2 linked regions of the Homo sapiens genome follow. The protein of the gene in region 1 purifies or fractionates together with the protein of each later gene. This does not show direct contact. Each region holds a gene or a part of one and is shown on either strand. Other genes may lie near its edges.

Region 1 (3,910 bases):
AATGGAGAGACTCTCCAACACTGCCAACAAGAAAATTCCAAAGGTGCAGGTAGAATCGGTCTCCACACCTAGGAGTGGGGCAAAGGGCTCCTTTGGTTCTAAAGAACCTATTTGTGTTTCAAATATCTTTCAGAAACTTGACACCTTGAAACTACCACTCTCAAGGAATCTGAGTAAGTCCTAGAATCGCTTTCTTCAAGGAGAGCAGCAAGACTCATCGCTTTGTTAAAGCTCTCCCTATTCACCCCTAGGGCCCAGGCCTGGATGCTGGGGTTCAGAACACCCCCTTGCTGCCCTAAGGTCCAACACTACCCAGCATCAGACGAGAAATGACCTCCTTTATTACCTGGGTCTGCCAAAGGACCTGGAAATCCAGCCTGGGGTGGGGGTGGGGGGAGTCCCAGAAACCAAAGGAGCACACAGGGGCCACAGTGGGAAGAGAACAGGCTGAAGAAAGCAAGTGTCACTAAATGTCAGGTGTAAGCTTGAAAAATAAACACAAAGAATGTAAAACCCAGCAGAAGAAATTTAACAAACCTTTGTGGTAGGCTGGGACAACGGAGACAGATCACGTACCAAGTGTAAAGTAAGTCACATTTTAAGAGTCAGAAAGTACCAAAGACCACAGATTGTTATCAAGGTTTATGTAGATCTCATACTTTTTGCAAACATCTATTTAATTAGCTTGTAGAGAAGGATCTTTTGGGCAAAATAACATTTTCCCAATTCCAGGGAATATTTATGCCTTTTAAATTCTGCCAGGAGGCCCCTGACAGGCACCAGTGACTCTTCCCTTCTCAGCGATCTGCATATTTCTAGGGAAACTTTGCACTGAGAGAGTTTTCCCCCTTTGTGAAAGGTCTTGGCGCCCAGGCAGTCCCCGACTTCCCCTCCCCCAAGTCCTGGCGACTGTTTCTGCTCAGCCCTGGAGGCTACTCTCCCGCAGCCTCAGGTTTCCCTACTTCTGCAGCGTCGGCACCAAGGGCTGATCAAATGTTTCTTTCTCCTTACACCGGCGGACCGGGAAACGCCGCCGCAGCCTCGCCTCCATCCTTCCTCCTACAGGTTGCAAATAAAGTACAGCAGCTCTGACATTAGGCAGTTTCTGTCCAAGGAGCAAGGTGACTTCATTTAATTTGCACTGTGCTCCTTCATCCCTGTCTGCATCAGGTTGAACGGGAGGCTCTCCCTACTACCAAACGCCTAACATTTCCTTGATACTGCCTTGAAAAATCATGATTATGACAAAAATAATAACGTCGGAGAATGGAGTGCTTGTTTTCTGCTTTGCAAGTCACCAAGCAAGAAAACACTTTTGTCTCCTTGGCTTTTATTTTAGGATCTCTGAGCGAAAGAGAGAAAGAGAATTTTAAGAAATGTCATTTTCGCTTTGCCAAAGATCATTGTGTCAATAACGTTTCTCTCCCATTCCTCCCCCTCCTCCCGTTTTAAAGGAAAGGTTCACGGGTCCAGCCAGGTTTCTGCCGCATCCCGACACCTGGAGACGTCTTTCAGGACCAGCCTGAATCGCGTCCGGGCTGGGCTCTGGACTCGGACTCGCAGCGGTGACAGCGGAGGCGGGGACGGGGGTGGACAAACTGCGGATCAACTCTCCGAGAAGACGGCCACCTGCCGGAACCTGCCTTCCTCCATTCCGCCCAGGAGCCTCGCAGCGGGGCGCTGGCCTGCGGAAAGGCCACGGGGGAGCACAGGGCTCCGCGCCGCCCTCCTGGGAGGGTCCGGAGTCCAGCGCACCCCGAGCCCTGGTGGGTGAGCCCGGCGGGAGGCGCGGCAGGTGCGGCGGGAGACTGGACCCCGACCTACCTTCACAAAGAGCTCGATCTCGGGGTCCCTGTCGTCCCCGTTAGCTGTCGCCGAGTCTGTCATGCCGTTGGCGCCCGGGGCTACCGTCCCGGGCCGGGGAGGCGCCACCTCTGCAGCACCTGGGCCAGCACTCTGCGCTCCTGCCGCTGCCCAGCGGGGCTCCTCTTCAGGGCGGTGTTTAATTTTTCACAAAACCATCTATTCTCCAGCCCGAGCAGCGGGGTCTGAGAGATCAGTGTCCCAGATGCTCACATGAAAAGGAGCGAAGCCGGGAGGAGGCGGGGGGCCACGGGGAAAGCCGGGTTAAGGGAATGACAACAGGTCGTGGGAGCAACAAGTGCCGGGCTGCCCGGAGGTGTCACAGGATCCGCGACTGTCAGCGATCCCGCCGCCGCCAACGCGCCCAAAATAGCCGGCGGCTGCAGGGCGGGGTCAGCCGGGCGGGGACGCGGCGGGGACACCCCGGCAGCTCGGGCCTGGGCCGGGCCACGGCCCCCCGCCCCAAGACCCCGCAGGGCAGGAGGCGGAGACAGAGCTGGTCCTGGCAAAGCCACCAAGGCCAAGAGGATGTCCTGGGGGCGGATAATGAGGCGAAGGCAGAAAGAGTCGAGGAGAAGGGGAAGGGGAAGAGGAAGGGGAAAGGGGAAGGGGAAGAGGAAGGGGAAAGGGGAAGGGGAAGAGGAAGGGGAAAGGGGAAGGGGAAGAGGAAGGGGAAAGGGGAAGGGGAAGAGGAAGGGGAAAGGGGAAGGGGAAGGAAGAGAGGAGATGGCTCTCAAGTCTTCTGTTTCTTTAATAAAGCGTCAGCTCCTCCGAGTTACTCCACTACCAGCCTTACCCACTTGGAAAGCCCTTCCTGTCTTAGTGATGCTCAGAACCCCCACCAAAAGGGGCATTTGCCATCCTTGGGCTAAGCAAAAGGAGAGTAGGGTGCTGGGGACGGGCAGGGCAGGGCAGGGGTGGCTCCTGGGGCAGAGGGGTGAGTCAACCCGGTCAGGTGCGGCTTCCATGCCTTTCAGCCTTCTGGGTTTGTTTATTTTTCTTCTCCCTTCTTTCATTTTCTTTCTATTTCTTCCTTTATTTTCTGATCTTACTTCATTCCCGTTCTCTTCTGGTTGTTTTAGTGAAGTAGGATGCAAACACAGAAAAGATGCACATATCTTAGGTGTATGCCTCAATGAATTTTCACAATCCAACCCACCCATGTAACGAGCGCCAGATGAAGAATAAAATGTTAGCCACAGCCCTAGAAGCTCCTCCTGCTCTCTCCTCTCCACATCTTTTCTCCCGTCTCCACTGTCCCAGGGTAACCATTATTCTGGCTTGTAGCAGCATAGGATCTTTTTGCCTGGAATGTTGGTGTCTGGCTTCTTTCGCTCATTACTATGTTTGTGAGATTCATCCATTGTGCTATGTGTAGTTGTGTATCATCCATTTTCACCGACACACTTACTTATTCATTCTTCTGTCAATGGACATTTGTGCAGGTGACTATCATGACTACTCTGTCACGAACATTCTCTCTATCAAACATCTTTTGGTTGGATTCACAGACACTTTTCTCTTGGATGTATACTTAGGAGTGGACTTGCTGAGTTGTAGTGTATAAGAATGCTCTCCTTGTGTAAACACTGCCATAGGTTTTCTAAAGTGGTTGCACCAACAGACATTCCCACCCTTCAGTTCTTTAAAAAATAATTATTGAATGTTTTGCACCAGAATCTGGTGGAATTCTCTTTGTCTTCTTTGCCTTCTCTTTAATTAATCCTGTTTGTGCTATGTCCTTCCTTACTAAAAACATGTATTTGTTTAATAGCTTTATTAAAAAATTTATCGCTTAATAAAAAAATAAGTAATAATACTTATTATGTGCTAGGCAAAAATGTTGAGCACTTTACATGTGTGAACTTGTATAATATTTACAAATAGTATAATGATCCCAATTTTACAAGTGGGGAAACTGAGACATGAAGTATTTAAGTAACTTATCCCTAGTCATTCAGCTAGGAAATGGTGAAGTCAGGATTTAAACCCAGACAGACTTGAGCCTGTCCTCTCAACTGCTCTACAAACTGCTTTTCTTAGTGCA
Region 2 (3,910 bases), on another chromosome or scaffold:
CAGCAACTGAGGTGCTACCAGGATACCAAAAAGTCTGCTGGATAAACACCATCTCTATTCTAATATTATGGAGAGATCAGGATCTCCTGTGCCCAAATCAAACCTGTTAATACACTCAGCTGTCCTCAGTGGTAACACTGAGGTCAACACACAACTCCAACATCAGGAACAAGTCATAACCATTTTGCATCTGAAACAGTGCCTGACACAAAGGTGCTTGATCAATTTTATTTACTAAATAAACCTATATAGTCTTATTTCTATTCATCTTTGTATTCCTAATGTCTAGCATGGTGTAAGAGCTCAATATTGTAGAAATGATATAATGGACATAAAAGCATTTTATAAACTGGACTAAGGGAATTTTGAGGTCTTTTCCAATTGTGAAATCCGAGTTATACGTGAGAAATTTATCACCTCTGCAGGAGTAAAGACTTTGTCTCAAAATCTTATCTCAATATTATCTCTCATTTGGCCATGTGTAGTGGCTCACACCTGTAATATCAGTACTTGAGGCCAGGAGTTTGACCTGGGCAACAAAGCAAGACCCTGACTCTACTACATATGTGTGTATGTGTGTGTGTGTATATATATATAATATATATGTGTGTATATATATAAAATCATTTGTCGACAAATACAGAGAAGGCTTCCATTAACATAGGCAGGGACAGAGTCTAGACAACATTCTCATTTATCTTATCCTAAAAACTGTCAATCATGTTAAAGGTGGTATTAGAATCTGGCCCAAGCAAAGAAACTGCCATGGTCGCTCCTATTCATGTCCTTTCTACAGCTTTCAACCTGATTTTCCACTCAAACCATAAAGCCACACCCAATCTAACCAGTACAAGATCAGCTAACCCACTCTCCCTAATGCCACAGGTGGTAACACGTCATTTTCAGCAACTGTCTACAGAGACATCCATGACACCTCCCCTCCCTCACTCTTCATATCCACACGATCACCAACTTCTGGCAATTTTCCCTACCTAATATATCTCAAAACCCATACCATTCTCCCATCCTCAACTGCTACCACCATAACTCTAAGACATCATCATTCCCCTCTGGACATCTTGACAGCCTCCTCTTTGGTCTCCCAGTTTCTGTCCTGCCAACCTCTACAATCTCCACACAGCAGCCAAAGTGAACCACACATGAAAATCTAATCATATGGTTCCCCTCCTTAACCCTTTAAAGGGCACCCTGTTCTTAGAATAAAAACCAAAATCCTTATCACGGCCTCCCAGGCTCTGCATGATCTTGTGGTTCCCCACGTACCTCTCTAGCCTCATCTGGAACCCCACACTCCTTAAGTTTCTCTAGCTCCAACCTCATGGGCCTTTCAGTTTTGAAAGAATTTCTGGCTTGACAGCCTTTGTGTGAGTAGTTTTCGCAGTCCTGAATGTGCTTTCTCTGGTTGCCTCCTGCCCACCTTAGTGATCTTAGCTCACTTCCCGTTACACTTTCTCACAGCTCCTTGCAAGTTCCCTTCAGTTCCGTCTTCACCACCAGAAGGTGTAAGCAGTACCTAGCACACAGCTGGCTCTTAACAGTATCTGAATGAACCAACGAATGCACCTCATCCAGCCATTCCAAGGCCAGGCTGCTAGGGGTTCTCGTGGCAAGAACACGCGGCCTGTAGGGAGGACATGGTTCCTTTACTAACGCAGCTAAGTTGTGGCTGTCTTGACTCTTGGTTTACAACAAACTGACAAGTCGAGAATCCTGTTAGACTTAAAGGTGACTCCATGAGAATTAAAAATTTTAGGCAGGGCGCGGTGTCTCACGCCTGTAATCCCAGCACTTTGAAAGACCGAGGCGGGCGGATCACGAAGTCAGGAGATCAAGACCATCCTGGCCAACATGGTGAAAGCCCGTCTCTACTAAAAATACAAAAAAATTAGCCAGGCATAACGGCGCGCGCCTACAGTCACAGCTACTAGGGAGGCTGAGGCAGGAGCATTACTTGAACTCTGGAGGCGGAGGCTGCAGTGAGCCGAGATCGCGCCACTGCACTCCAGCCTGGCGACAGAACCAGACTCCGTCTCCAAAACAAAAAAAAAGTAAAGCTGTCGGTACACTGCCACCCCAGCACTCGAGGGGGCCACCACTCGCTTCCTGGAGGGCGGCGGCCCAGCCCTGGTCCACCCACGCGCGGCCGGGACCTGCGCCCCTACCCCCGTGGCCACGCCCTCCAGCCCCCCGGGCTCACGGCCTCAACTCTCGACCCAGCCCCCTACTTCTCTAGGCCTGCAACCGCGCAGCCCTCACCCCTCGTACCCGGGGCCTAAGCCCACCCCAGATTCTGGGTCATTCGGAGCCCCAGTGCAGCAGAAGTCCGGCTGCGGGTTCACCTTGTCCTCCGGCACAGGGCCCGGCCACCAGGCGCCACGCTGGATAGCCTGCGGCCCTCGCAGGGTCCTTCAGGCGCTCCCTGGGCAGCCCTGCTCGGGGTCCTAGTCCGGTTGCGCCGCGGCGTGAGGTGAGGTGTGAGTTGCCCTGGAGGGTGGCGGGTTTTCCAGGCGCATGCATTTGCCGCGGACGGGACGAGAGGATGAAGCCGTTCTGGGCGCCGGAACTCGCTTGTGGGAACCGCCCCTCGGAAGCCGGCCTGGGCGCCCTCGGAAGCCGGCCTGGGCGCCCTCGGCGGGAGGGAGTGCTGGGCCGGGTGCTGGCGCAGCGCTACGCAGGGTGGCGGAACCCAGAGGACCGGACGGGCTCGTTCAGGGTGGCGGCCCGGCGGGGGCGATGCCCGCCAGCAGAGACACCGATGGAAACCTTGCCCAGTTATTTTCTTTGCCCAGGGTAGTTCCTGGAACATGGTTGATGCCCAGTATTTGTCAAAAGTACGCGGAGGGCAAAGAACTTAAGCGCTCGATAGCGAAGGCACAGGCCCTTCAAAGTCTTTTGAGCTCTGAGCGATACATTAGCATGAAGGATCGTAGCTAATATGGGGGTTGATGAAGGAGGATCCTTGGCTGGAGCCCAGGTGTGCATAGGGCATGAGGAAAGCAAGTCATAACGGCCTTTCACGTGTCATTAGGAATCTGGGCAGCAGGGTGTGGTTTGGGTTACTCTGGAGTCTATTGACGCAGCCCAGGGTGAGGAGATGAGAACTGGGGGTATTCCTGGTGTGTACTGTGATGTATGGAGAGGATGGGGACAGGGAGAATGGATCGGGGGTCAGCTGTGGCAGGTGACCAGAAACTTGGTGACAGGTTGAATAAAGATGGTTAAAAAAAAAAAAAGTGTTTTGGTTTCTTGGGTTTTTTTTTTTTTTTTTGAGGGAAATCACTGAGAATGAGAAGAATGAAAATAAACGATAACTGTCATCAATGTAAAGACTTACTTGCACATTTAACTGACTTCGGTGTCTGCCTACACAGGTGTTGCCCTCTTGGAAGGTTTATCCCCAACTCATGGCTTCTGTCCCTGCAGCAATAAGAAGCCACTTCCCAATAGTTTCCTGATACCCAGTCACCTTTGGGAACTTACGAGGAAAGTTTTTCCAGTCTCTCCGCAGACCCTTGCATCTCTTCTCTTTTTGTTTAGACCCTTGACCACCACCCCCTATTCTAATCTTAACTCCTCTGCTACTCAGTTCCAATCCTAACCCAAGCCCTAGTCCCTAAATTTATAATCCTTTAATCCTAGACCTGGTCTCTAGATCCTGAGCCCTTGATGCTTATCTTCTAACCTCCTAATCCCAACCTCAAATCCCTAAACCTCAACCCATGAATTCTGACCTGATTCTCAAACCCCAGGCCCCCAACCCTGACTCCAAAAATGACAACCCATTACTTCTCCCTACACGGAATCACTGACGGAGTTGTAGCAACTGAATCTGCAGTAGGCCAAAGGACCCAGTGAGTTAGCCAGCAAACTACTCTAAATAAAAGATATG

Evidence for each region.
Region 2: the proteins of CLIC5 (region 1) and NME6 purify together in Homo sapiens (affinity purification with mass spectrometry; one large-scale study listed by BioGRID and IntAct). This does not show direct contact.

The regions. Positions count from the first base shown.
Region 1 is NC_000006.12:46,013,656-46,017,565, forward strand, and holds the start of CLIC5 (chloride intracellular channel protein 5), read right to left. Parts: upstream 2,206-3,910; 5' UTR 1,888-2,205; coding exon 1,825-1,887; intron 1-1,824. UniProt on the Homo sapiens protein: In the soluble state, catalyzes glutaredoxin-like thiol disulfide exchange reactions with reduced glutathione as electron donor. Can insert into membranes and form non-selective ion channels almost equally permeable to Na(+), K(+) and Cl(-).
Region 2 is NC_000003.12:48,298,993-48,302,902, forward strand, and holds the start of NME6 (nucleoside diphosphate kinase 6), read right to left. Parts: upstream 2,376-3,910; 5' UTR 2,361-2,375; exon of another isoform or gene 2,321-2,360; coding exon of another isoform or gene 2,304-2,320; exon of another isoform or gene 2,278-2,303; intron 1,643-2,277; coding exon of another isoform or gene 1,535-1,642; intron 1,529-1,534; exon of another isoform or gene 1,439-1,528; intron 1-1,438. UniProt on the Homo sapiens protein: Major role in the synthesis of nucleoside triphosphates other than ATP. The ATP gamma phosphate is transferred to the NDP beta phosphate via a ping-pong mechanism, using a phosphorylated active-site intermediate. Inhibitor of p53-induced apoptosis.